Regions from separate parts of the Homo sapiens genome. Here all the other regions are reported to be linked to region 1. Evidence: microRNA targets listed by miRTarBase, many of them from high-throughput screens and not tested one by one. Region 1 holds a microRNA gene; each other region holds the end of a gene's coding sequence.
What was found. Region 1 holds the annotated microRNA hsa-miR-6760-5p (CAGGGAGAAGGUGGAAGUGCAGA, at 2,115-2,137, shown strand). A microRNA usually pairs through its seed, bases 2 to 8, with sites in the 3' UTR of a target mRNA and lowers its output. Matches are read on the target gene's strand: a 7mer-m8 pairs with bases 2 to 8, a 7mer-A1 pairs with bases 2 to 7 and ends in A, and an 8mer does both.

Region 1 (7,119 bases):
TCCCACATACCAGGAAACTCTTCCCAAAACAAAATTGACTTGAACCATTTCTGGAACAAGGCAAGATACGTATAAATAAATAATAAATTCAAATGTGAACATGAATGTGTATGGGTCTCAATATGCATACATTGGGCATAGCATCCTGATTGTCCAGGTCATTATGTAGTTAAACATAATCACTATGACCTGCATTACCAGCCAAAGGCAAAAATACAGCCACAGCTCTTTTAATTCTCTAAGTAATGGCTCAAGTAATATACCCTCATGATGTTAACAAAGTTAACCAATTATTGATGCATTTATATGTGCCAGGCACCAAGCAAAGATATCTACCAAATTGCATTTGGCCAAACCACTTCATTTGCAGAACAACCCTATGAGATAGTTGCCTTTATAATCCCCATTTTATTAATAGGGAAACCGAGGCTGGGGAGATGAAGCCTCTTGCCTAAGATCGCATAACCGGAAAGTTGCAAAGTCAGAATGTGAGCCCAGATTTCTCTCCAAAGCCACAAGATTAAATGTATTAACATTTGAATGCTTCCTTCCAGGTAGAAATTTTTTAAGAATTAAGATCTACCAGCTGGGTGTGGTGGCTCATGCCTGTAATCCCAGCACTTTTGGGAGGCTGAGGTGGGTGGATTGCTTAAGCCCAGGAGTTAGAGACCAGCCTGGCCAACATGGAAAAACCCCGTCTCTACTAAAGATACAAAAAGTAGACAGACCTGGCATCACACACCTGTAATCCCAGCTACTCAGGAGGCTGAGGCAGGAGAATTGCTTGAACCCAGGAGGTGGAGGTTGCAGTGAGCCAAGATTGTGCCACTGCACTCCAGCCTGGGCAACAAAGCAAGACTCTGTCTTAAAAAAAAAAAAAAAAAAAGAAAAGAAAAAGAAATCTACCAGCTGGGCACAGTAGCTCATGCCTGTAATCCCAGCACTTTGGGAAGCCAAGGCAAGTGGGTTACTTGAACCCAGGAGTTCAAGACCAGCCTAGCCAACATGGCAAAACCCGTCTCTATTAAAACTACAAAAATTAACCCGTCATGGTAGTGCACACCTGTAATCCCAGTTACTCAGGAGGCTGAGATGGGAGGATCAATTGATCCCGGGAGTTGGAGGTTGCTGTGAGCCCTGATTGCACCACTGCACTCCAGCCTGGGTGACAGAGCGAGACCCTGTCTCGAAAAAAAAAAAAAAAAAAAAAAAAAATCGACCATAGACCCAGTTTAGTGAACTGCTGCATTCTGATTTTAACCACTCAAAACCTCTTTGTGTTAGATGTTTTCATTGCTCCCCATTTCAAAAAGAGAAACTGAGCTGGGCACGATGGCTCACTCCTGTAATCCCAGCACTTTGGGAGGCTGAAGCGGGTGGATCACCTGAGGTCAGGAGTTCAAGACCAGCCTGGCCAACATGGTGAAACCCCACCTCTACTAAAAATACAAAAAATAGCTGGGTGTGGTGGTGTGCACTTGTAATCCCAGCTACTTGGGAGGCTGAGGCAGGAAAATCTCGTGAACCCAGGAGGGGCAGCTTGCAGTGAGCCACGATTGTGCCACTGCACTCCAGCCTGGGTGACAAGAGTGAGACTCCATCTCAAAAAAAAAAAAAAGAAAAGAAAAGAAACTGAGACCCAGGGAGAGGAAGTGACTTGCCCAGGGGCTGCAATAACCTGTGGCCTGGGAAAGCACCTTTGCAGATGCCGTGTCTGGGACTCATTCCATACCAGGTGGCATGAGAGTTGGAACAGCTCTTGCCTTCAGACTAGCCAGGCCTGAAGTTAATGTGGCAGACAGAAGTATCTAGAAATGTGTGAAAACCTGCCAGTCCCACCCAGAGAGCCTCTCTCATCCTGCCTTCATAGAGCAGGAATGTTCTGACTCCTCTGGGGGTCCCAGGCACCCCACGAGAACCCAGAACCTCCTCAGAGGGGCATTTCTTCCTGTCCTCTCAGCTCAGGAGTAACCCCAGAGGCTGCTATTTCTTGTCCCCAGCCCAGACAGGGCTCTGTGACTGGTCTTCATAGCTCCAGGACAGGGTCCGGGACTAGGAAGGCAGGACCTGAGGCCCTCGGAGGTCTGCCTCCCCAACCCCTGCCTGAAACAGTGCAGGGAGAAGGTGGAAGTGCAGAGTGGGCTCACCTCTCGCCCACACTGTCCCCTTCTCCCCAGCGAGCTGAGGCTGCCCAGCGGGAGGTGGAAAGTCTCCGGGAACAGCTGGCCTCTGTCAACAGCTCCATCCGCCTGGCTTGCTGCTCTCCCCAGGGGCCCAGTGGGGTAAGGATGGGGTTGGGGAAGTGAGCAGGGAGGGCAGAGGGAAAGATCGGGAATGGCTGAGTTTGCAGGTTTCAGCATGTGGGTGACACTTTGTGGTTGATTGTGTGCATCCATTTGAAACTGGGAGTGTGAATGTGTGTGGGTCTCTGTGCATACGGTGAGCATAATCACTATGACCTGCTACACCAGCTGAGGATAAAAATACAGCTACAGTTCTTTACTTTTCAAGCCCACGTTTCCATATACCCTTTATTACCAGGAGTTCCAGTATCTTCCTTTGGAGGCCTCCCTTATCCCCAATTATCCAAGAATGCCAGGAACTTCCTCAGACCAAAGATCATTCTGATTTCCAGATGCACCAGCAAAGACATGGGGGAGAGGGAGTTTGAGGCAATACAGCAGCATGCAGTTTTGGTGGCTGCCACCAGGTGTCGCTGTTGAACACCGGTCATAGCAGCTTTGTGCATGCTTGGGATGGTGATGCCCCTGCTGGTTTTCAGTCCCAAAACTGGGTACTTTTAGGAGTGTGAGCCAGCCAACATATCAACAGGCAGTCATCACCAGGACTGCAGTGGGGCCACATACCAAGATAAAATTTAACATTCATACTCAGCCATTGGTTTCCAAAGCATGCCAGGTGATTCTAGGGGGATTTCCCACCCCAGCCACATGCTATGAAGAGCCAGTCTTCGGTGATCAACCCTGAGGTTCTTGTGTTAGGCCTGATTAATCAATTCATCTTTCTCTTTCCTCCTGGTTTGTGCCTCTTTGGGGTCCTAGTGTCATTTCTTGACAAGAGACTTTCATCAAGGCCACCCCAACCTACCCTTCTGTCCTATATTAGCAGTCTCCATCCTGGCTCTCCCAGAGAGCCTTGGGTTCATTATGTGAATTGGTCTGCCTTATTTCCAGATCTCTACATACCAAGGGGTGAGATTCATGATTCCTTACATAATAACAGGTCTGCTCCAGGGTGACTTCCCTCTCCACCCATGAACCTGAACTTGCGAGCATAATTTTCACTTCACCTGACACCCACATATACAGGCCCAGGTGTCTATGTCTCTCTTTCTGTTTGAATATTGGAATGAGTCTCTATGAATGTGTTACTGTGTATGTGTGTCTCTACTTGTGACCTTTGGGCAACTGACTGTATTCTTAACCTGACTGTGCCTCAGTTTCCTCATCTGTACAATTAACATCTACTTTATAGGGTTATTAAAAGGATTACATGAGTCAGGCATGGTGGCACATGCCTGTAGTCCCAGCCTCTTAGGAGGCTGAGGCAGGAGGATCACTTGAGCCCAGGAGTTTGAGTCCAGCCTGGGCAATACAGCAAGATCCTGTCTCTGAAAAAAAAAATGGATTATGTGTAAAGTGCCTAAAATGGTGCTTGGGTCATTGTATATGCTCACTAAGTACTTGATGCTACTGTTATAATTGTTAATGTGTCTTTGGTGTGTCTGGGGTGTTTTTGCTCATGAGAGCATGTGGCTTCTTTGAGCACGCGCATGTCTGTTGTGTGTGATGATGTGTCCTTGTGAGTGTCTCTCTTTGATGCGTGTGTATTTGTGTGTGTGTGTCAGCATATTTGGGAAACTGCATGTGTTAGTGTGTGCTGTGGCTATAGGTGTGTCCTTGTGTGTCAGCCTGTGTCTGTGTCCCAGGAGATTCTGTGTGTGTCCATGTTCCTGGGTGACGGCATAACACAGAGAGAGTGAACACAGGAGAGAGAGGCTGTGTGGAGAGAGATGGAGAGTGAGAGCCCATGAGGATGCCTCGTAGAGGAATTTGCCAATGGTTCTTAATTAACCCCCGTGGAACCCGGCAAATGCCTGTGCTAATCAGCCCCAGGGAACTTTGCTGGTTTGGGGGGTGTGCTTTTCTGAGCACAACAGTGGCACTCGATGCTAATTAATTTAATGTATTAATGGCATCCGCTTCCTGTTTTAATTGGCATTTATCTCCATGGAAGAAAGCTGGGGTTGGGTTGGGGCTTTTTGTTTGTTTGGTTTTTTTTTTTTTTTAATGTTTCTTAGATTTATTTGTAACTAAGCCTGACATCAGCCTGACTTCAGGTTCCTCAAACAGCAACCTCTCCATCTTCATCCAGGACAGAGGGTCCATTTCCTAAAATGTGGAGAAGCCATGGGTCTTGGGGCTATCAGCAAATTAGGCGGAGGAAAGAGCCGCCCATAACGTGGTCCGTGGCTCCAAGGTGTCAAGTCTAATCCTGAGGGTCCCTTATTGCCTAGAATGGGGACATCCCCCTGGAGTAGGAGCCAGACCTGAGAAAGAAACTCAAACTTTTACCTATGCTGTTTCCTCTGGTGCGAGCACCCAATCCCCAACCTCAGCTGACTCCTTCCTTTTGTCATGGCTATTCTTTTTTAATAAATCTTTTAATCAAAGTGTAACTTAATACATAAGGAAAAGTGTACAAGTCATAAGTATACAACACTTTGAATTTTTCAACACAAGCACACCCCATACCATCATCCAGATCAACAAATTTGCATTCTGCTTGGGATTCAGGGGTGGGGAGGCCAGACCTGTGGACCCCCATCCCTCACCTCTCAGCCCCTCAAAGACCCCTTTGCCTGCAGGATAAGGTGAACTTCACTCTGTGCTCGGGCCCTCGGCTGGAGGCCGCGCTGGCCTCCAAGGACAGGGAGATCCTGCGGCTGCTGAAGGACGTGCAGCACCTCCAGAGCTCACTGCAGGAGCTGGAGGAGGCATCCGCCAACCAGATCGCCGACCTGGAGCGGCAGCTCACGGCCAAGTCCGAGGCCATAGAAGTGGGTCCTGGGGAGGAGGCAGGCGGGCAGGCGGCCCCATGCAGAAGCACACAGACCAGCCTCACCATCTTTCTTTGCTCTTCTAGAAGCTGGAAGAGAAGCTCCAGGCCCAGTCTGACTATGAGGAAATTAAAACGGAGCTGAGGTACCATGTGGGGTGGGGCTCCACAGACCCTCAGTGCTCTTCCCTGGCCAGGAGCTCTTGGCAAAGTTCATCATCTTCCTCCCTCCTACTAAACCCCATTTGTTCTTCTCTCCACTAACACTGTGGATATCAAACCTTAACCATCCTCAGGCCAGGTGCAGTGGCTCATCCCTGTAATCCCAACACTTTGGGAGGCCCAGGCAGGAGGATCGCTTGAGGTCAGGAGTTTGAGACCAGCCTGGGCAACAATGGGGAGACCCCATCTCTGTGAGAAAAAAACAATTTTAATTAGCCAGGAGTGGTGGTGATGCGTGCTGTAGTCCCAGCCACTCAGGAGGCTGATGTGGGAGGATTGCTTGAGCCTGAGAGGTCAAGGCTGCAGTGAGCTGTGGTGGCACCACTGCACTCCAGCCTGGACAACACAGTGAGACCCTGTCTCAAAAACAAAACGAAATTCAACCATCTTCAGTCCTTTTCCATTAAGAGCTGCCTGTACGGGCAGATCACCTGAGGTCAGGAGTTCAAAACCAGCCTGGCCGAAAGGGCAAAACCCTGTCTCTACTAAAAATACAGAAATTAGCCAGGTGTGGTGGCGCTCACCTGTAGTCCCAGCTACTTGGGAGGCTGAGGCAGGAGAATCGCTTGAACCTGGGAGGCAGAGATCGTGCCACTGCACTCCAGCCTGGGTGACAGAGTGAGACTCCATCTCAAAGAAAAAAAGAAGCTGCCTGTAGACCATACAAGGGAACTTATTATAGGCATGGTAACTGGAAGGTGATTCATTAACCAGCTAAACTCAAGCTGGCCAGAATGGGTCAGTTCAGGCAGCACCCCTCCAGGTAACATCGCCACCTGTTAATGAGCCTGCTACTTCAGGCCTGGGGTTGCAATGACTCTGGAATTAATGGGGTTCTGGGGAATGGAGCAGTCATTGTCAGGGAGGTAAGCCGGGTCAGTGCCTCTTGAAAGACCTCTCCTCCAGCCCGGGGGCTGGCTGACCTCAGACCCTCTCCACTTGCTCTGGCAGCATCCTGAAAGCCATGAAGCTGGCCTCCAGCACCTGCAGCCTCCCCCAGGTAAGTGTCCCTGCCACCATCCCTGCAGGGCAGGCTGCCCCAGTGAGCCTTCCGCCCACCAGGTGCCCTCTCAACCTGCCTCTTGTCTCCTAGGGCATGGCCAAGCCTGAAGACTCACTGCTTATTGCAAAGGAGGCCTTCTTCCCCACGCAGAAATTCCTTCTGGAGAAGCCCAGCCTCCTGGCCAGCCCTGGTAGGGGAGGAGGATACTCTGGGGCTGAGGGCTGGGGCGGGGGCTGCCTGTGGGTCTCTGGCCTTCTCATGCCCAAGGACCACTGCCTTCCATGCAGGCAGGAGAACGACAGAACAACAGGTGTGCATTGATTTGGCACCTGCTGTATGCCTGTCCTGCAGGGCATCCACAAACACCCACGTCATCGTTGGGGTCACACAGCTGGTTTGGGCCCTTCCAAGGCCCCCTAAAGAGCTCCACTCCCCACTGAGCCTTCTTGAGCTGCAGCGGCTTTCATGAAGTGGTCACAGGGGGACAAGCAGGGCATTGTCATTACACCCCCCACAGCCGACCACTGTGGGGAGCAGTAGGCTGCGGACATGATCACCCTGTCAGCCACCCGCTGACTTTTTTTTTGAGACCGAGTCTCTCTCTGTCGCCCAGGCTGGAGTGCAGTGGTGTGATCTCGGCTCACTGCAGCCTCCGCCTCCTGGGTTCAAGCAATTCACCTGCCTCGGCCTCCTGAGTAGCTGGGATTACAGGCATGCACCACCACACCCAGCTAAGTTTTATATTTTTAGCAGAGATGGGGTTTCATCACATTGGCCAGGCTGGTCTCAAACTCCTGACCTCAGGTGATCCGCCT
Region 2 (7,119 bases), not on the chromosome of region 1:
AACTCTGTGGGCCATGTCTACAATTCAAGTAATTGTAGCTGCCCACGGCGCAACAACTCCAGTGCTTCTCAAACTTCAGCATGCATGAGAATCACTGGGAGAGTTTTAAAAACAGATTCCTTGACTCTGCCCCAAAGAGATTGCTGACTTTGGGCTGGAGGATTTACATTTCTAGCTAGTTCTCTGGTACTGCCAATGCTGCTGGTCCTCATGCCACACTCTGAGTGGCACCCTTATAGACAATTCCGTCCCCGAGTGTAACGCAGTAGAGTTCTAGTGCAGAGACTGGCTTATTAACTAGAGAGCTGTTGGACTGAACATCTAGGTCTGCATGACAGCACTAATAGAAAACACTATTTTAAGCTAGATTTGACAAAAGCAAACATCCAGATATTTGTGAGTCTGTGGCTATTTCTATTGTTAATGATGATGTGGCTAAAGTTGCCTTTCCTTTTTATTCTGTGATAACCCTTTCACTTTCCCACTTCTCTCGCTTCCAGCCTTCTCAGGCAAGCTCCAATTTTACCTCCAGCTTTAGGAGGTTTGCCCTTTCTGGCTCCAGCACCCTCCCTCTCCCCTCTAAGCAAGCACTCCTGCTTGTCGAGAGCATTGTACACACAGCTCCCTGGAGAGGCAGGAGCTGCCATGGGTAGAGCCAATTTGGGGTACAGAGAAGGACAGAAAAGAGATGGGGTAGAGATGGGGAGAAGGAGTTCCTGACAGCTGTCCAGCCTGTTCCCTGGCCTCCCTCTCTCACTCTGTCTTTGTGTACCTCTGATTCTGTTTTTCTTTCCATTGCTCTCTCTCCTTCCTTTCCTCTTTCCCTCCACTCCCTTTCCCACACTCCCACCTGGTCCCCTCCCTGGACCCCCCCCAGATGAAGTCTATGCCCAGAAGATGAAGTACAAGGCCATTAGCGAGGAACTGGACAACGCACTCAATGACATCACCTCCCTCTGAGCCCCACGCCAGCGTGGCCACCTCAGCTCTCTTCTCTCCTCTCCTTTCCATTCTCTCTATGGGGAGGGGAGCAGGCAGGAGGAGCAGAAATTGCCAACATTGCACAGCCAGGCTGGGAGCAGCCTAGGGAGAGCCCCCATCATGCCCACCACCCACTCTGGCACTGGCTTCATCCTTTACCTATCCCCTTCCACCCTCCTTTGCTGCTTAATAAATTCTGAACTTGGTCTCCATGCTGTTTTCCTGCCCTCCAGAGAGCACCTCTATCGCCACCACGGAGCACTGGTTCACTCCTGACACCCTGGCACTTACTGACACCCCCAGCCCCTGCACTGAGCCCACCCACAAAACACCATGGCCCACGCTGAAACCCCTCTGCACAGGCACTCCCTGGCTGTCGCTCTCTGATTCACCACTGCATGTGGGCACGTGTGGCCCCATCAAACCATGACCGCCTCTGGTGCCAATCCCTGACCTCAGAGCACTTAGCTGGGGTTCCAGGATCAAACAGAGTGACTGGAAAGGAAGTAGGGTGGTGAGGTGCAGGACAGGGGCAAGAAGGTTGCAAAAGGTCTGGAATGGAGCTTGGAAAAATGTTGGATATCAGCAACATGGGGCTTTCACTGCAGCAGCAGGTCTGTTTTCTACCTCAAGTCTGTCTGTCTGGCCCTTCCTTTCCTGGCGCAGTCTTTGTCTTACCTTCTGTCTCCAACTTCCTTAAACCTTCTAAAGAAGAGGATAAAGTAGTTTATGACTCAGCCCTCCCCACCCCACCTCTATGACCCCAAGGCCTTGAGTGAGGCATCCACGTCCGTCCTGTTCCCCTCATCCTAGTCAGTCCATCTGTTTGTCCCTGCCAAGGGGCCCTGAGGTCCGTGAATGCATGTGTCTTCCTTGACCCACTCCATGTCTATATGTCACCTTCCCCTGGCCCTGCCTCCCCACGTCTCCCCCTTGTGTCTCCCTTCTCCCTCACCTGCTGCTTCCCCTCACAGAGACCTTGGCCAGTGCCAAGGAGGAGAACGTCGAGATTCACCAGACCTTGGACCAGACCCTGCTGGAACTCAACAACCTGTGAGGGCCAGCCCCACCCCCAGCCAGGCTATGGTTGCCACCCCAACCCAATAAAACTGATGTTACTAGCCTCTCAAGGCCCTTTAATCCTTTCTTTGGTGTTGGCAATGGAGTTTGAGGGACCCCTGAATGAGCAGGGCCTGGGTCCTTGCTCTGCATTGGGACTTCCTTTTCAGGGGAAACTGGGATGGAGGGCCTGGGCTCATTGAGGAGGGGCTGTGAACAGGCTCTGTGAAGCAGGGAGTCTGACAGGACTGGGGGACATCGTGGGCCTTGTGCCCTACAGGCAGAGGAGCTGCCATCCATAGCACCGCCCTGTTCCAGCAGCCAGCTGGGCCAGACAGCACGTCCTGAAGCAAAAACTGCAAGAAGTGACACATTTTCCTTGAGCAGGGTGAAAACCCAAAAGCCTGAGTGTGATGTTAAGCCTAGGGCTGCTGTCTGCCCTACCCCTCAACACATACACTGCACACACACACAAACACACACACACACACAGCCATCCCAACAGTATCAGTCATTTCTGTCCTCTTCCTGATAGCATCTGTGGTAGGCAGAATAATTCCCCTTCTCCAAAGATGTCCATGTTCTAATCCTGTGCATTGTTCTTATCTTACATGGGAAGAAACTTGGTGATTAAGATTTTGAGATGGGATGATTATCCTTGGTTATCTAGTTAGGCCCAGTGTAATCCCAAGGGTTCTTGAGGAGACAAGGAGGTCAAATGTGGAGGTAGGAGTTGTGACAATGGGAGCAAGAGATTGGAGTGATGTGTGGAAGGAGGAACAAGCCCTACTGACATCTGACTGCTGACCTCCGAACTGTAATAGAATAAATGCATTACCACTAAATTCGTGCTAATAACAGTAATAGGAAATTCAAATACCATCCTTCTGATTTGGGGAACAAAGGTGACTAACACATATTTTATTATAAATATTTATTTTAAAAAATTTCTTGGCAGTTAAAAGGAAGTGGCATAATGAGCAGGACAGGACAGTTACCGGCTCCCCCTCAGATGCCTCTGGCTGGCTTCTCACATTCTCCAAGATCCAGCCTCTAGGCTCCAGTCTCGGCTACCTCTGCTGGGCGGTAGCTCACACCCCCTTTGGTTCCCCTTCTGTGTGTACACAACAGGAAAGGCTAATCAGAAAACTGGCCCAGGAGCAGCTCATTTGCATGCGCTTTGCATGAAGTGACTCCACAAGGGTGGGGGAAGCTTGTGCCTGAAGAAAGGGTCAGTGTAATACCTGTGCTGCCTTCTCATCTGCACAAGGAACGCGACGCTGGTGACAGCAAAAAGGAGGCCAAAAACCAGGGCTAGGATGTCACCTGCGATGGAGAGCAGAGAGGGCTGCTTTGGGAAGGAAGAGGGGTCTGCAGAGTTCCTCAACACCTGCCTCAGTGCACTCCACCACCCCTGCCCCGAGTTCTCAGGCAGCCCCTAGTGCCTCAGTCTCCAGAAGAGGCCAGCCAAGGGATGAGGGTGGATACACGAGAAGGGGTAAGATAAGCACCGTTTTTGCTTCCTAAAAGCCAAGTAAAAGGGCCGTTTGGGGCCAGGCACAGTGGCTCATGCCTACAGTCCCAGTGCTTTGAGAAGCTAAGGTGAAAGGATTGCCTGAGCCTAGGAGTTCGAGGCTGCAGTGAGCTATGATCGTGCCACAACACCCCAGCCTGGGCAACAGAGTGAGACCCTATCTTTAAAAAAAGGGGGGGGATTGTTTTGCGAGAGGGATGCTGGGAGATTTCTCAAGCTTCATTCTAATCAATTAGCCTCTGGGGACAATGGGGGAATCCCCACCATGATCTGCCTCTCTAATATTGGGGTTGGGGTCTGTTCTGCAGAAAAGGAGAGGGAGCAGAGGCGGTCCTGAGCAGCCCTGGGGCTGAATGGTGCTGAGGAGTCTCCTGGCATCAGGACCAAGAGGAGGGGCAGACTCACCAGCAGCCAGGCAGGAATTCAGCTGGACTGGAGAGAAAAAGGAGATGTGAGAGGCGGGCTGTGACCACCAATGACAGACACTGGCACACACATGGGAGGATAAGGGACTACTGGCTGGGGGGAAACCAGACAAAGCTGTACCTGGCTCAGCAGCCCGAGGACTGCTGTCCACTCCAGCAGGGAAGGAGGCCTCAATCACTCGCCCATTCAAAGGCTGCGTCGCTCGGAAGTTCAGCTGTAGCCGAGAGTCACCAGGTCCCCACAGGGTGTCAGAGAGGGTGTGGAGCTAGGGAGGTCAGTGGACAGTGTGGGTGGGTTCATGGCATGACAGGAAACAAGGGTCCCAGGCCAGCTCACAACCAGCACCTCAGGGCTCCACCCTCCAGCTCCTGTATTCCCCATCCAGCCTCTTGATTTCTTTTATAAATAAATAAATGTATCCTAAAGATGGTAGGCAGTGGTGGGATCATAGCTCACTGCAGTCTCAAACTCCTGGAATCAAGCGATCTTCCCACCTCAGCCTCCTTGAGTAGCTGGGACTAGGCGCATACCACCATGCCCGGCTATTTTTGGTTTTGTTGGGGTTTTTTTGGTAGAGATGGGGTCACACTATGTTGCCCCGCCTTGTCTTGAACTCCTGGGCTCAAACCATTCTCCCACCTCAGCCTCCCAACGTGGTGGGATTATAGGCGTAAGCCACAGAGCCCAGCCTTGATTTCTTTCTTCTCCTGTTTCTCATCTCATCTTACATCCTCTTTCCCCCGCACCCACTGTGTCCACACACACCCCAGGCCCACCTGCTTAGCACTCAGCATCACTGTCTGGTTAAACACAGTCCAGATGACACCCTGGGCACAGGGCGGTGTAGTCAGAGACCCCTCATATTGGAAGTAGCGGCTGAAGTCAGAGGGCAGGAGTGCAGATATGTCCAGTCCTGGGACCTGAGTCTCTGAGCCTGTGAAGAGGATCTATGTTGGGGTCTCATCTACATTGCACCCCCTTAAAGCTTCAGGGTATAGGGATACAGTTTCACCTCCCAGAAGCCAAGGTAACTCAACTCTGAGACCACTTCTTCGCTAAGTGCAGGCCCTTCCCATAAGACGTAACTCAAAAAAAAGTACAGGGCTTTGGAGCAACTGGAAGAGGCCTGAGGAAGCAAGAGAGGAAGAAAGAAAGGAAGGAGAGAAGGGAAGGTGGGAGGGAAGGGAGGAAGGAAGAGAAGGAAAGAAGAAAGACCGTCTGAGTCTACACTCTTAACTCTGTGTACCATCATAAAGTGCTGGGCCACAAGTTTAAGCCCAGAGCAAATTAAAAAGAAAAAATGAATCCCAGCACTTTGGGAGGCCGAGGCTGGTGGATCACAAGGTCAGGAGTTTGAGAGCAGCCTGGCCAATATGGTGAAACCCTGTCTCTACTAAAGATGTAAAAAAAAAAAAAAAGAAAAGAAAAGAAAAAATGATCTGAATAACTTGTAAATAAATATGAATATTGATAACTATACAAAACAGACACAAGAAATGCAAAGGCAGAGTTCTACCTAGTCTAGCAGAAACCTAAAAGGTCTAGTAGAGTAAGTGAGATTTAAAATGACCCAAGAGTGACTAAGAAGAGAACGATTTCCAACAAAAGTATTTACAAAGTTAAAATATTTGATGCTTATTAAAGATAAACAGTTCTCAGAAAAAGTTTAGCTCTCCAGACTTGACCTTGACAATTCCAAACACCATTTTTTGGTCTTGTTTTTTTTGTCTCATTTTGGTTTTTGCTTGGTTTTCTTTTTTTTTTTTTTTTTTGAGACAAGAGTCTCGCTCTGTTGCCCAGGCTGGAGTGCAGTGGCACGATCTCGGCTCACTGCAACTTCTGCCTCCCGGGTTCATGCCATTCTCCTGCCTCAGCCTCCCGAGTAGCTGGGATTACAGGCACCCGCCACCACGCCTGGCTATTTTTTCGTATTTTTAGTAGAGATGGGGTTTCACCATGTTGGCCAGGATGGTCTTGATCTCTTGACCTCGTGATCCACCTGCCTTGGCCTCCCAAAGTGCTGGGATTACAGGCGTGAGCCACCGTGCCCGGCGGTTTTTGCTTGGTTTTCAATCTGTAGGCAGCCGTTTGCGGGTAACTGTGTCTGTCAGCTTCATGGTTATTATCAAGATGAGCGCTGGCTCATGCTTCAATCCCTCCTGCACTGGAGGGAGCCCATCTCCAGCCTCAGACCTGAAGCTCCAAAGGGTGATTCTTTATGAACTAGGCCACAGAGATTAGTGGCCAGACCAACAAACTGACCTTCCTCAGCGATTTCTTCCAAGCGAGACAGCAACTGCTCATAGGCACTGTTTTCTTCCGGGCCCTCCTGGGGGATGACATTGTAAGACAGATGAGTGCATGTATCCAGGGCCATGGCTGAAGGCCGGAACATGAAGGGGGGTTCCCATAGACCTCTCCCATTCCTCAGCTCTGAGAATGCTGAGGGAACATAAAATTGTAATGGTTGTTGCTTTTTGTTGTTGCTGTTGTTTTTTTTTTTAGAGACAGTGTCTCCCTCTTAAAATCCTATGTATTATTTCAAACTCTATGTACTCTTGCTGTGCGAACCAACAAGCTTGGTGGACTGGTTTTCAATGACAAGCTGGAGAGAGAGGGAGAGAGCCCACTTTACTTAGGATACTAGGCTCTCAGTGACCCGTGCCCTTCTGACGTTTGCAGTCTCACTCACTGCTGCCTCCGTACATACTCCCCACAGGAAACCATATATACACCTTTGTGTTGGTGTCACCTCTGCATTCACCTTCATGATTCTGTGTTTGGCTTTTCAGGTGAGGTCCTGACATGCCACTTCTTTTATTTATTATTCTTTTTTCTTATTTTGCTTATGAACCTAATGTTAAGAACATTATGAACCTAAGAGTATGAACATATTGACATGCTATGATGGAGGCATTTCTCTGAACTTTGTGCTGTGTGGCTGGCATTAAAGAATCAGTGAGTGTGGCTGGGCACGGTGGCTCACACTTGTAATCAGCACTTTGGTAGGCTGAGTCAGGCGGATCACTTGAGGCCAGGAGTTTGAGACCAGCCTGACCAACATGGTGAAACCCTGTCTACTAAAAATACAAAAAAAAATTAGCTGGGCATGGTGGCAC
Region 3 (7,119 bases), not on the chromosome of region 1:
TGAAATAGTGTGTGCCCTAATCGTGTGGCTCTAAACAGACCATTCTGTAAGATATAAATTATATCTTTTTTGTTTTTTCGAGATGGAGTCTCACTCTGTCGCCCAGGCTGGAGTTTAATGGTGCGATCTCAGCTCACTGCAACCTCCGCCTCCCGGGTTTAAGCAATTCTCCAGCCTCAGCCTCCTGAGTAGCTGGGACTACAGGCGTTCACCACCATGCCCGGCTCATTTTTTTTTGTTGTATTTTTAGTAAAGATGGGGTTTTGCTGTGTTGGCCAGGCTGGTCTCAAACTCCTGACCTCAGGTGATCCACCCCCCTGCCTTGGCCTCGCAAAGTGCTGCAATTACAGGTGTGAGCCTCTGTGCCCGGCCCGATATAAACTATATCTTAATAATCACACAACACATTTATCACGTGTCCTTGCTAATTAGGGGTTACAGAAAACATGGTAAGTGGCATCCAAAAATAATCTAAAAAAGTCCTGCATTAATCATTAATTCCAGTGACTTTTCCAAATAATTATTACTTTTCCCCCTCACATTTGTGAATAGCTCACACATTGTTAGTGGGGGACCGGCATTTGGTTGGTCCTAAGAAGATACAGGCTGATGAAATTTCTAAAAAGTGAAATAACTCCCCATTTAGTAGTTTAGTACATCAGAGAGGTAAAATCTTGCAGCAGCGGTCCTGGGAGGGAGGGTGGAGGCCGGGATGAGGAGAGTGTCTTGCCTGCTTGGTAGCTGGTTCCCTTGACTTTCTTCTGAAATGAGTGTCTTTCTGTCTGCCTGTTGCCTCTCGTAGCCCGAGTTCTTTCAGGTCTGCCACACCAAGAAGGACTATGAAGAGTACGGGCCCAGCATCTGCCGCCACAACCCCGTCTTTGGAGTCATGTCCTAGTGTCTGCCTGAACGCGTCGTTCGATGGTGTCACGTTGGGGAACAAGTGTCCTTCAGAACCCAGAGAAGGCCGCCGTTCTGTAAATAGCGACGTCGGTGTTGCTGCCCAGCAGCGTGCTTGCATTGCCGGTGCATGAGGCGCGGCGCGGGCCCTTCAGTAAAAGCCATTTATCCGTGTGCCGACCGCTGTCTGCCAGCCTCCTCCTTCTCCCGCCCTCCTCACCCTCGCTCTCCCTCCTCCTCCTCCTCCGAGCTGCTAGCTGACAAATACAATTCTGAAGGAATCCAAATGTGACTTTGAAAATTGTTAGAGAAAACAACATTAGAAAATGGCGCAAAATCGTTAGGTCCCAGGAGAGAATGTGGGGGCGCAAACCCTTTTCCTCCCAGCCTATTTTTGTAAATAAAATGTTTAAACTTGAAATACAAATCGATGTTTATATTTCCTATCATTTTGTATTTTATGGTATTTGGTACAACTGGCTGATACTAAGCACGAATAGATATTGATGTTATGGAGTGCTGTAATCCAAAGTTTTTAATTGTGAGGCATGTTCTGATATGTTTATAGGCAAACAAATAAAACAGCAAACTTTTTTGCCACATGTTTGCTAGAAAATGATTATACTTTATTGGAGTGACATGAAGTTTGAACACTAAACAGTAATGTATGAGAATTACTACAGATACATGTATCTTTTAGTTTTTTTTGTTTGAACTTTCTGGAGCTGTTTTATAGAAGATGATGGTTTGTTGTCGGTGAGTGTTGGATGAAATACTTCCTTGCACCATTGTAATAAAAGCTGTTAGAATATTTGTAAATATCTTTCTGCTGTAGTGTGGTGGTCTGTTGGTTTTCTCCCTGTCGCTGTGCCTCCTTTAAAGAATATTGACATTGTTTTACATCATTGGAGAATTTGATTAATACTCAGCTTGTGGGAGGAAATGTCTTTTCGCGAATGGTGTGGGCTGCCTGCCCCGCAGTGACCACTCCATCGCTGGGGGTATCGTGGGTCTGGATAACCCGTCAGAGATGGTTTTTGAATCTGGGGTATAGTGGGAAGGAGTGCCTAATGATTTCTGATGTTCCTTCCTAGAAGTTCAGGATTCATGACTGTAAGCTTTCAGTAACTACTCTGATGTTTGCTGAATGGACTGCTAGCTTGAAAGGTAATTTGCTCAATTAATAGATTTAGGTTGATTTCACTCTTCATATTATTCTTATAATTATGTTACTTTAAAAATTGTTATTTATGGTATTTCTTCTAAGTTGTGAAGTATGTTTTTTTTTTGTTCTGTTTTAAAATTTTTTCCTTAGTTTCACTCTCAAAGGAGGTGAATGAAATATGTTTTGTTCTCAGAAAATTTGCCTTCATAAAGAAACGTAGCCAGGTGCAGTGGTGTGCGCCTGAAGTCCCAGCTCCTCAGAAGGCTGAGGCAGGAGGATCACTTGAGTCCAGGAGGTCAAGGCTGCAGTAAGCTAGGATTGAGCCACTGTATTGCAGCCTGGGTGACAGAGTGAGACTCCATGTCTTAAATAAAACAAAAACAAGAAAAAAAAAGTTATGTTATTATTTGAGTTTAGAAATAAGTTTAATATTGAACTCAGTATGGTGAAATCTGAGTTTACCAACCTCAGTTGACCGAATCTCTGATACTGTCACTGTGCTAGGCCCTCAGTCTCCCCAGTCAAGAGTCTGGTACCACCTGGTTCTCCCCTCATCCGTAGTGTTTCTCTGCATTCCCTTGGGGGATTTGCTGCTTCTCGGGATTGCTGTACCGTTGGCTTCTCATGATCTTCCAGCCATTTTATTGCATCAAGTTCCCGGTTGGTCTGCCTGCCTTCAGTCACACCTTTGCACCCTGAACGTGGCAGCGAGAGCCGTTCCTTCTAACGCCATTTTCCTCTTAGTTCTGTGCTATTCAGGGACCTACCTGATACTCCCATCTCCACCCTGCCCCGCCCGATTCAGCATGCTTTGCACATCTCACAGTGGGCACCGTCATTCCCACCTCTGCTCTGCATCTGTGCGTTGGCAGGTGCTTTGTTGCGCCTTCTCCAAACCCTGGGAATAACACCACTCTGTATGTCAGTGCTGTGGCAGCCTGGCTAAGCTAGAGCTGTATGAGCTGTCCTTCCACCACAGGATACCCAAAGCTTCCCTGTGCCTTCTTTGGTACAAGATTAGCTTTGAGATTGTACTTCTGTTTGTCAACTTAAAGAACTGTGGGAGAATATATATATATATATTTTTTTTTTAAATTTTTTTTTTAAGATGGAGTTTTGCTCTTGTCCCCCAGGCTGGAGTGCAATGGCGCAATCTTGGCTCACCACAACCTCTGCCTCCCGGGTTCAAGCGATTCTCCTGCCTCAGCCTCCTAAGTAGCTGGGATTACAGGCGTGCACCACCATGCCCGGCTAATTTTGTATTTTTAGTAGAGATGAAGTTTCTCCATGTTGGTCAGGCTGGTCTCAAACTCCCCACCTCGGGTGATCTGCCCGCCTTGGCCTACCAAAGTGCTGGGATTACAGGCGTGAGCCACCGTGCCAGGCCGAGAACATTTTGTTTTAAACCTACATTGACAGGACAGAATGATCCATTACAATGTGACAGGTATGATGCTGTGGTTCTCAACCCTGGGCAAGACCCATCCCAAATTAAGAGAATCAGAATAGGAGCCCCAGGGAAGGCATCCAATTTTTGCTTTTTGTTTTTAAACTCCTTAGGCAATGCCAGCGTAGCTGGATCTGAAAGGCTTATGAGCAGAAGGAAGGGTTTTTGACTCAAAAAGATCTGAATACCAATTCTGGCTGTTCCTCAAGCAAATGAGATCCTATTTTCTGTTTGCTCATCTGTGGGAGAATTGTAATGGTCCTTTTCCTGTTAATAGAGGTGAGTTATCATTTTTTGTTTATTCAGTGAGCCTGGCAGATACTATAGATAGAAATGAACTGTGATGGTCATGTGCACCCGTCATTTTATAAGGAAGAAAAATGTTTACAGTTAGTAAATTTGATAAAATCTGCACATACCTTTTGTTCAGGTTGAATGAGTTAGATCATAATATAGAAATGAGTTAAGTATTCCTAGAGTTGATGGGTAAAATCGACCTCCTATGACAAAACTACAACTCCAGGTGAGCAGTTTTCTGTAAAAAATATTTCATCAAATACACTCGTTAAATTCTAAAATTATAAGTCTACAGTCTTTAGGACTATTAAACCTTTTAATAGTGCAGGAGCCAGGTGTGGTGGTGAGTACCTGTAGTCTCAGCTACTGGGTAGGTGGAGGTGGTAGAATCCATTGAGCCCGGGAGCTCAAGGCTGCAGGAGCCAGGGTCATGCCACACACTCCAGCCTGGGCAACAGAGTGAGACCTTCTTAAAAAGTGCAGGAAGTTGCTTTGCCCTATTCAACAGATTTAGACATAAACTCAGCTTTACGATGGTGAGAATATGATACGAACGGCCTTAACTTAAAAAAAAAATCTGGCAACTAGTATGTGAATATTTAACAAACATTACCTTTCTAAGATGATATGACCGCTGGCTCAGAGTTGCTCTTTCCAACACACCTGAGGAAACAGCCTCTCACTTCTTTGCGGATATTCATCAGCTGTTCCTGAGGGTTTAACTTCTGTTTCGTGAACTTTTAAGCCAAGATTAGACTAAGTAACATGAAGCTTATGAGTTTGTTTCTGCATATGGTGAGGGTTGGGGAAAAAATGAGAGAAAAGACTCCTGAAGTGGGGTCTGTAGAAGAGGAGCCAATCAGGGCTGCTGAGGACGGGGGAGGTGACCGCATCGCTTACAGAGGGAGGAAGGGTAAACGCAGAAGGCACCTGGTGCTTGCGTTGACCAACTGCAGGTGGGTGGGGGACTCTCTCTGATTGAGTTTCCATTTCCATGTAGCCTAAATTGAGGAGGGAAGAAGGCGAGGCTTTCTTAGGGGTTGGGGTTTGGGTTTTGCCAGGCAAATGTGATGATGGGTGGGGCAGGTGTCCTGGGGGCAGGCAGGTGTAGACGGGGTTTCTCTGCTGCTAACATGAGGGACCACGGACTCCAGGTAGGGTGGGAGCAGAGGGAGATGAGAGATTGGGAGGAATGGAGGCGTCTGAGGACTGGCGGCCCTGGGCTTCAAGGTTAGGAGGTTGTGGTCCTGAAGAACGATACTGATTAAGATTTCAGAGGTGGAGCACCTCTCAGTGATAACAGGGTCATGGAAGTGGTGATTGTGTAGAGTTTAAATTCACTGGAAATGGAAGAATGTAGGGAATTTTGAGAGAAGGGCATTGGATAGGTTGTCTGGTGGGTGCTGGCTCACGCAGGACGCTGTGGGGGTGGAGATGAAAGTAAGACTGGTCCAGCTGCCTGAAGTCGTGCCTCAGTCTCGGGGGTGGCAAGGAGCTGAGCATTGACCGTGAGCTGGGCACTGCGCCGAGAGTCACCCCACGTTGGGAGTGATGCTGTGTAGCCTCCTTTCACCTGAACCGAACCCTATGAAGTTGGTATTGCTACTCCCATTTTCCAGACAGGAAACCTGTGGCTGAAAGAAATTCAACAACATGCCAAAACCACACAGCCAGGACACCGAGAAGTCATATTGAATCTATTTTCTCCAGTCTTGTAGAAGTAGGTCATAGCAACTGGTGAGAGACCGGGTGGTAAAACCCAGTGATAGGAATCTGCAGCATGACTTCATCAGATAGTAGAGTAGAAAGAGTTTGGAAATGGCCATGGGGAGCTGGAAATCCCCCTCGAATCCAGATCCCTTGGTATGTAACGTGTTCCAGGAAGCTACTGATGCGGGATGTTTAGATGTAAAATTATTTTCATTTTTGTTCACAGCGCTTTGTTAATACATGTCTTATCAGGTGCACTGGCTTTATGTTACAAGGCAAATACAAGATGGTTGTTAATCTGAGTGCTTAGAACCATAATTAGCCCCTAGTAAGTGTTCAATAAATTCTAGCCATTATTATTATTCTGTTACAAAGCAGTTGCTGTGTCTTAAGAGCTCTACTTATCAAAATTGTGTTTAAAAAATTTTCAGCATAGGAAAAGGGAATTTTAGATTCATGAACTGTATTGCCTTTAGGAATTCCATTAAGAAAGGGTTAGAAAAAAGATACTAGTATGTAGTTGTAGAATGCAGACTCACGGGGCTTTTCTTACCACTGTAGCTGATATGATTGAATCACTTTTATCGTCCATCTAAGGAAAAGGAAGCCACTTGGAGCCCTGGGTTGCCTGCATGGCAGCTGTCTCCCCACTAGGCTCCAGACCAAGTCATCCCATCTGAGCCACATGAGGATGTCTCTGTTTTGGGCTGTGCATGTTCCATAGCCTTGCCACTTGGGGGCAGTATGGTGGAAGGTGCCCTGAGTGGCCCCCCTGGAGGTGTTTGTTCCCTTCCCTGGAGTGCTCTTGCCTGTCCGGGATGTTCACCCTCCTCTGCTGCTGCCCCTCTGTGTGTAGAAGACAGCCCCTCCTTTACCAATGCACCAATGACACCTGTGTCCCTCGCTGGACTGACGTCCTGGAACATGGGGGCCGTATGGTGCTTATCTTGGGAACCCCCGAGGCCTTCACAAGGTCTGGTAGGTGCCCCGTAGACACTTAACTAAGCTCCTATCCGACAAGAAGAAGGCATCACTGGTTTTCCTGGGCTGCGTGTGCTCTGGTGCTGAGACACATTGTGTGTCTGGATAACTGTAGGACGGTGAGCACCCAGGATGTAGCTATCGTTACCTTAAGAGTTTAATGGTATCATAAAATCTAACTCTTGGGCATGGACTTCAGGAGGGTTTTGGGAACCTGAAGAGTAGAGGATCAAGCTTGTCTAAGGCTGCCGCCTGCCTGCGTCTGCTGTGCCGCCAGCCAGAGGCCGGTGGAGCAATCACCCTGCAGAATCCTTGAAGATGTGCCTGTGTTTTATGGCAGTCGTAGCTCATTCCACAGCTTTACTCATATGAATAATGAGCTCTCGTGTGACTGAAGTGCAGATCGTTCGGTGATTAATTCGTTCTTTATGATCCCTCCTTTATATCTCATTTGTAGAAATTACGATTGTGCCAGACAGGCTTGTGGGGTTAATCAAGTGCAAAGCTTATTGAAAACCACAAGAGAGGCCCATTAAGAATATTTATCTATTAAATAATTCTTTACTTAATTGAATAATATTTCATAATGTTTCTTTTAAAAGTATCTGTCACCCTTGTT
Region 4 (7,119 bases), not on the chromosome of region 1:
TGCCTAGTAGCTGTGCAAGTTACTGAATCTAAGTCTGTTTCCTTATCTGTAAAATGGGGTCAAATAACCTTGAAGGATTACTGTAAGGATGAAATAGCAATTCATAAAATCTCTTAGCACAATGCCTAGAAAACAGCAAGCACTTAATAATTGAAGGTGTATTTCATTATTACTATTAAAATATGTGAGGGTTTTTAAATTGACTTTTCCCCAGCCAACTACACCCTGCACAAGCTTTTACAATGGTTTCAAATGTGGAATTTTACCTCAAACCTTTGTAAATGTAATCCCCTCCAGGTTATATTTTATCACATTTAAAGACAAGTCCCAAGAAGGTATAAAATAACTTTCTATCCTGCCCCGTTAGCTGAACAGCAGCTGCTGCTGGAGGGGATTTAGCCTTGGCCAGGCTGCAGAGCCCAGGGCGATGAACACTCCTGAAAGGTTCCTGCTTAGTTCTCACTTTCTCTGAGAAACCCTTTGTTAGCAAGTACATGCACGCAGTCCCATAAGGGCCTTGAATCAGGGTAATGGAAAATTCTGTCAGGTTGAAGGGACTGAGGGGGCTTGAGTCTTGCTGCCAAGCGATGGCCTCCCCCGGGGCTGTGCTGCCCTTAGCTGAAGGTGGAGATAGATAAAGAAAAGCATTAGCCTCCAACCCCCAAATCATCTCCCCACCCGCCGGCTTGATGAGGTGCTTAGAAGTCTCATGGTTGTCATTCCTTTGGTTTAAGGCTTTGAAGGTACTGTATCTATAAACATCATATATATTGCCATGAAGAGCTTGACTCAGTTTATTCATCTGCAGCTCTGTAATTCTGATAATGGGCCCCACAAGAGTACAAGAGCCTGCTTGTACTCTATCCAAGACTCTGTCCTAGTGCCTTGCTTAGTAACCCAGCTACTAGGGTGAAGTTCCGCTCTGCCCATGTCAGACTCCCTTCCCTGAGTCTGGAAGTCCAGCTCCAAATCCAGATCAGGGTCTGGGGCCCTACTGCCAGCTGAGACATGTCCCCAGCAGTGCCTGCCTGCCTGTCTGGTGTCTTACACAACTTCCACGGCTTGGCTTCCCTGCTATGTGCTCCTCCACCCTCCCCATTCCCCACCTCTCTGTGTACTTGATGTTTTGCTGCTTTGACTTCCCTGATGCTAAGGCTACTCTGGGCCATGCCCTGCTGGCTCTTTCCCAGCCCCTTTGGATATAGTCTTCTTCCAACAAGCCTGGACTGTACTCCTTTCTGTCCCCGAGCACCCCTGCCTCCCCTCTCCAGCCCTACCCCACAGAATAGGCCTAGTTTAGAAGGCCCAAAGTGTGTTATCAGAATTGATACTGGTGGATTCTGACAGTCTTCCTGATCATGAAAAAAAAATAGGGCTTTTAGAACTTAACATATATTTTCTTGTTTTAATTCAGATCTTTTACATATGCCCCTTCTGCTTCCTTGAGTAAAAAGATTACTGTCCTTTGAATTTTTTGCAGAAAGAGGTATGTGTGTTTTGCTACAGTTGGCGCCAAACCATGCTGTTTTAGTTACTGCTTGAATTCTGTCTTTCAAAAATGTTGGACTAAACTGAGATAAGGGACAGCTGTATTCTGGAATTTTCTGGAAGGAATTTAGATTCACCCACCTGGGTTCCTCCCCTGCGCATCAGTGCCTGGCTTCTAAACTTTCACATCTCAGCTTCAATGTTACCTCCTCAGAAAAGACTTTCCGCTACCCTATCTGAATACTAGAATCTCTCAGCCCACCTTTGCTAACCCCTTGTTCCCTTCATGACACTTGTCACAATTTATTTTCTTTAGCCCTGGGTGTGGTGAATCACACCTGTAATCCTAGCACTTTGGGAGGCTGAGGCAAGTGTATCACCTGAGGCCAGGAGTTCGAGACCGGCCTTGCCAACATGGCAAAACTCCATCTCTACTAAAAATGGTGTTGCATGCCTGTAATCCCAGCTACTCAGGAGGCTAAGGCACAAGAATCACTCGAACCAAGGAGGCGGCGTTTGCAGTGAGCCAAGATCGCGCCGCTGCACTCCAGCCTGGGCAACACAGTGAGGCCCTGTCACACATACACACAAAAAAATTATTTTATTTGTTTATTTGTGTTAGAGTGCCTTCCCCACCAAACTCTAAGATCCAAAAGGCAGAAATCATGTCTGGTCTCTAAAATTATACTCCTAAAGCCTAACATAATGCCTACCTGAAAATAGCTGGTCAATAATTCTTTGTTGAGTGACAATATTTTCCACTTGAAACAGTAAAAAACTATAGACTCTACCTATCTCTGATGATCATCAAGTGACCAGTGAAAGGGAAAATCCTTAATCATATTCTACTTAAAAATCTAGGATTTTAAAAAATCTGTTTATTATCAAGGACCAACTGCAGGGGCTTCCAGAACTTCCTGAGGATTGGGACGTGGGCAGCTCCCTCCAGCCTCGCTGTTTTCCTGATTTCCACATCATGACAGCAATCCTTCAAGATGCCTGCAAGGTGCCTACCGTCCTTGTTCTTTTGTTTTTCTCTCTGGTATCGCAATTTGCTATTAGGAAAAAATCTGAAACCCATTCATACTATGATTTTACATAGGAGTATTATTAGCATTTAACCACTTAAACACTTGAGCCATTGGAATGAAACATTCTGGTCTTATCTGGCACTGGAGGAAGCAATTTAAGGAAATGGGCCTAAAGAGGCCTGCAACTTGAGTGTGTTCACTCTATTACCAACCAGCTTATGCTCTTTAGTGATGAAGCTTTAGAAGGGAGGGAGAAAGAAAGAAAATGAGAGTAGACATACATGAGGTTGAAATCTTACTATAAGTTACTTTTTGTAGTCCAGCATATAATGAACTGTTAAATGTTAATGACTATGTTTATAAACATGTGAGATGGACTGTTTTTTTTTTTTTCTAGGAGAAAAAAATGGGTTCCAAGTGCTTTCTCTGGTTAGACTACTGCGGTATCTCTGGGTGGAGCACCTTATCCTCAGACAGAGGCCAGGTGTACTCCTAAGTCTCCATATTGGTGTCATAATATGCGTTCTATGATCTCTTTGCAAGACCTTTTTTAAAAAGCTTTCCTGCCCTGATAAACAAGACTGATTGGTAGTTAAGATTACACTTCTGTTTGTCTTTCCTAATCTTCTCTCAGAAATGACACCCATTTGTTGGTGAAAGGCTAAGTGGCCGGTCCCTTGACCCTTTGTTTGGAGCAACAGTTATTTCTCTTCTTCCAAATAGATGAAATATCAATAGCGAGCCAGTGAGAAGCAGCCCCACTCTCAGGGAGCTCTCCTGGGCGTCAGTTTACGTATCTGTAAAATGGTGATACAAACACCTATTTCACAGACTCATCCTTGGGGTCTATACTTCTTTAAAGCCTTCTCATTTTTAGGTCCAGGTCAGGTCTCCCCTCTTCTCTGTGTAGTTTGTTAGTTTTTTGTTTTGTTCTGTTTTGTTTTATTTTTTATGTATCACCTCCTGGAGCCTATGGTTCCTAGAATTGATGATAAATGAATTCGTGTTTAATTCTGTTCTAATTGTTAGAATAGAATAATGTGAGTTACTCTGATCACATTAGGCAGATTGTGGGCTTGATAAAGGGAAGTTCTGGAATCATCCCTCAACATCCCATTTTCAAATACTGTGTATTCAAAACAATAACAAAAATAATCAGATAATAACAACAATTACCATGTAATGACTGTTATTTCCCAAGCACTCTGCTAAACTCTTTACAGTCAACTCAGTTAACAGCCCTATGAGGTACTTAACAGCTCAGTTAACAGCCCCATGAGGTAGATATTAATGGGGCCCAGTTTACAGATGAAGAAACCAAGGCTCAGAGATTGTCTTGCTGGAGTCCAGATGTAAGTTAACAACTGGAATTTTAACCATTGCATGCCTGACTTCAAAGCTCTTTGCATTACTGGCTTACTGATGGGTATAGTCCAAGCGCTCCCCTCCCCACCAAGTCTGCCATCCTTCTCTTGTAGTCACAGTATGAAGTGGACAACAAAAGAGAGATAGATGTAGAGATAGATTTTATTAAGACAAATTACACATTTTACTATATTTTTCCTTTCTAAAACCCTCACCATCAAAGATTGATCCCACAGAATTTCTAATTCAAGAACACTCATTTCATAAAACATTTCAGAGATAGAAGGAGAGAAAATATTAATGCTAGGCAATAGATTAAAAGGTGTCCCCTCCAGGGACCCGGGATGATCAGACATTCCTTCCTAAATGGCATCCTAGTCACTTTCCTCCACCTCTCCACTCTCATTTATCTTTCCACCCAACAATAGCATCCAAGTGTCAGCAGAGGGCCCAGAGATGGGCAGGTGAGTCAGAGGTTGAACCTCCTTCTGAGCCTTTACCCTCCTCTGTCCCAACCTCTTGTGGCTATCTGTTTAGGTTAATAACTGCCAGGCAGCCGGAGAGGAGAGCAGGAAGACACAAGTTTCTCTGTGGTTTCCTTTCCTTATTTCAGGACTCCCCAAGCCTTTACCCATCCCATCAGCACCCACACACACACACACGTGCATTTTAATAATGTAATAATCCCTCTATAAGTCTCAGTTTCCAATTCCAAGCATCGTTTACCTTCATCCAAAACAACAGCAACCCATTATGGATCCAGTGAATACAGAGACCAGGCCAATCCCTGGGGAAGGCAAGGCTTTTCTACAGCCCCCACTTGGCAGTCTCATTAGGGGCACTAGGGAGACATAGGAATCTCTGCGCTCTTTAAATAAAGGCCCTGCCAAGAGAGCTGGAGATTCCCCTACTATTTCCTTGCCCCTGCTAAAGCCTCCAGGAGAGAGAGATCTGGGGGCCTCCATAGCTGTCATCACACCTCCTCTTGGCACTAAGTTGGCAGTCAGCAAAGGAAGTAAATAGGAGGGGAAAATAGTTTTCCAGTGTTTTCTCTCCATTTTTATTTTCATCTTCACAGCAGAATTTTTTTTTCCACAAGGGGAATCTGAGAAGTACAATGCTTTCTTTGTTTTAACAAGGCCTGGGGAAATTCCACTGGCCTCAGTGGCTGATGATCTGGTCAGGGTTCGAGAGAGGACAACAGCTTCTTGGATATTCCTGTTGGTAAGGCCTTCAGGGAATGGCTGGGTGAACAGCCAAGGGAGAAAGGGAAGGGATGGTTTCTATCATTGGATTGAACTGTAAAGGAGCTGCAGGGTGACAGATGTTGGCAGGAATTCCAGTAGAGTTTGTGTGTACAGTGACTCCCTAGCAGGGCTGACACCTGCACAGGCTAGGTGTACACCCTAGCAGAAGGAAAGGTTGCAACATCACCAAGGTGGGGCATTTGCCAGAGGTACATACCAGGGCATTTGCCAGAGGTACATACCAAGGCATTTGTAAAGCTGAGGCTGCTGGTAAAGTTCCAAGAAGCCCTTTTTAAGGCTGAGTAGAGGGAGGAGAAGCCAAGGGCAACCCAAGGCCATCTCACCACTACTCCGAGGAATGGTCCATGGAGACAACAGATTCAAGAGCACATATAATGCAAGTTCCTTGATTCATGCTGTCTATTGGCTGGGAACTTTGAGCTCTTCCTTGGAGGAGGGAGGGTGATCAGGTCAAGGAGGTAGGAACTTAGAGAACGCATTTGGTATGCTGCTGGTATGTAGAGAGAGAGTCATTCTATCCCTCTGGCTATCCCTTCCAGGCCAGCTTTTGCCATGCTTCCCTTCTTTCCCTCTACCCTGTTTCATGAGTAATCTGAAAGGCTTCGTATACTGGGTAGAGGGTGGGGAGGGAACTGCAGTCTGGGTGGGTTGTCACCTCTCTTACTATCCCAGAGCCCTGGTTATAGTTTCTAGAATTAATGAGCAACGTCATTGAGACCCGGGGCTCAAAGGAGCCAAGCAGTGATGACAGTGAGAAAGCATCAGTTCAGAAGGGACACGTCTTTCCTCTCTGAGCCTCCTTTGTTCCCACCTGGTCCTGATCCTCCCATAAAGGAGGGTCACACTGATAGGTCATCTGACCTTGCCTTGCTGCTGGCCTTACTAAGACGTCGCTTGTCACTATGATAGCCATGGGGAAGGCGGTGACCTGGTGAGACTCCATTGGGCACCTCAGGCTTCTGGCCATAACGAACCTGGATGAAACCTTCCCCAGGAGTCTGCTCCTGACCTCGTACTTGCTCGGTGACCAGGTTGTCTGTGTTTTGTTGGGAGGCCATATTATTGCTGAAGGGATTGAAGAATTTTCCCCCAGGGCCATTCTCCAGGCACTGATTAAAGTCGGGGGGTGGTGTGCAGCTCTGGACTATGCCCACAGAGGGGCCAGAAAGCTGGCACTTAGCCATGTGCTGCCGCGGTTTGACAAATCGCTGTCTGATCTTCTTCCAGCCCAGGTGGTAGAGTTCAGCCAGGCTAAGGAGGAGGGACAGTGCAGCCACAGCCAGCATAAAGACAATGAAGACATTCTTCTCTGTGGGCCGGGATACGTAACAGTTGACCGGGTGGGGACAGGGACTCCTGCGGCAGACATGCAGGGTGGTCAGGAAGATTCCGTAGATGAAGTACTGGCCCACAATGAAGCCCACCTCCATGGTGGTGCGGATCAGGATGCTGCACACATAGGTGTTGAGCAGAGTGCCCTGGAGGGCAATCCTTCCATTCCCTTCCTCCCAGCAGGACAGTTCTGCCTTCTCTGCCACCGGGTACTCGTAAGAGCCAGAGCCCCGGACCTCTTTGGCCCTCTCGGCCTCCCGTAGCTTGCGCTTCTCCTGCATGCGCACAGTGTGCATGGCGTGGCCCATGTACACCAGAGAGGGCGTGGAGACGAAGATGATCTGCAGCACCCAGTAGCGAATGTGGGAGATGGGGAAAGCCTGGTCGTAGCAGACATTCTGGCAGCCAGGCTGAATCGTATCACACCGGAAATCAGCCTGCTCATCCCCCCAGGAAGACTCAGCAGCTGTGCCCAGCACGAGCATACGGAATATGAAGAGGACAGTGAGCCAGACCTTGCCTACCACGGTCGAGTGCTTGTGTACTTCCTCCAGGAAATTTCCCAGGAAGCTCCAATCGCCCATCTTGGCACAGCCAGGGAACAGATGCCAAAACTTCTGCAAATGGGAGAGAGA

Region 2: the mRNA of TPM2 is a reported target of hsa-miR-6760-5p. The part of its 3' UTR that is shown has no 7-base or 8-base seed match.
Region 3: miRTarBase lists ACTR3B as a target of hsa-miR-6760-5p. Seed matches in the 3' UTR shown: 7mer-m8 at 1,127-1,133.
Region 4: miRTarBase lists GJA5 as a target of hsa-miR-6760-5p. Seed matches in the 3' UTR shown: 7mer-m8 at 5,144-5,150 and 8mer at 4,727-4,734.

Annotation. Positions count from the first base shown.
Region 1 is chr12:111,302,033-111,309,151 of GRCh38, forward strand. It overlaps MIR6760 (microRNA 6760), which reads left to right and starts at 2,110; the gene lies at 2,110-2,177. CUX2 (cut like homeobox 2) reads left to right here. Exons shown (of 22, transcript NM_015267.4): 10 at 2,178-2,282; 11 at 4,889-5,080; 12 at 5,167-5,225; 13 at 6,253-6,301; 14 at 6,395-6,494. The region is part of intron 2 of LOC105369983 (a long non-coding RNA gene); the gene reads right to left.
Region 2 is chr9:35,677,000-35,684,118 of GRCh38, reverse strand. It overlaps TPM2 (tropomyosin 2), which reads left to right. Exons shown (of 9, transcript NM_003289.4): 9 at 878-1,187. The coding sequence ends at 960. It overlaps CA9 (carbonic anhydrase 9), which reads right to left. Exons shown (of 11, transcript NM_001216.3): 6 at 6,263-6,329; 7 at 4,777-4,934; 8 at 4,121-4,265; 9 at 3,980-4,006; 10 at 3,285-3,366; 11 at 2,960-3,154. The coding sequence ends at 3,094. Among named protein-coding and RNA genes, the nearest start is that of CA9, 6.6 kb to the right of the region's middle.
Region 3 is chr7:152,853,656-152,860,774 of GRCh38, forward strand. ACTR3B (actin related protein 3B) reads left to right here. Exons shown (of 12, transcript NM_020445.6): 12 at 803-1,723. The coding sequence ends at 898. Among named protein-coding and RNA genes, the nearest start is that of ACTR3B, 97 kb to the left of the region's middle.
Region 4 is chr1:147,752,171-147,759,289 of GRCh38, forward strand. GJA5 (gap junction protein alpha 5) reads right to left here. Exons shown (of 2, transcript NM_181703.4): 2 at 4,029-7,101. The coding sequence starts at 7,068. The coding sequence ends at 5,992. The region is part of intron 1 of LOC102723321 (a long non-coding RNA gene); the gene reads left to right. Among named protein-coding and RNA genes, the nearest start is that of GJA5, 4.9 kb to the right of the region's middle. RefSeq lists an enhancer at 1-1,600 and a silencer at 6,211-6,505.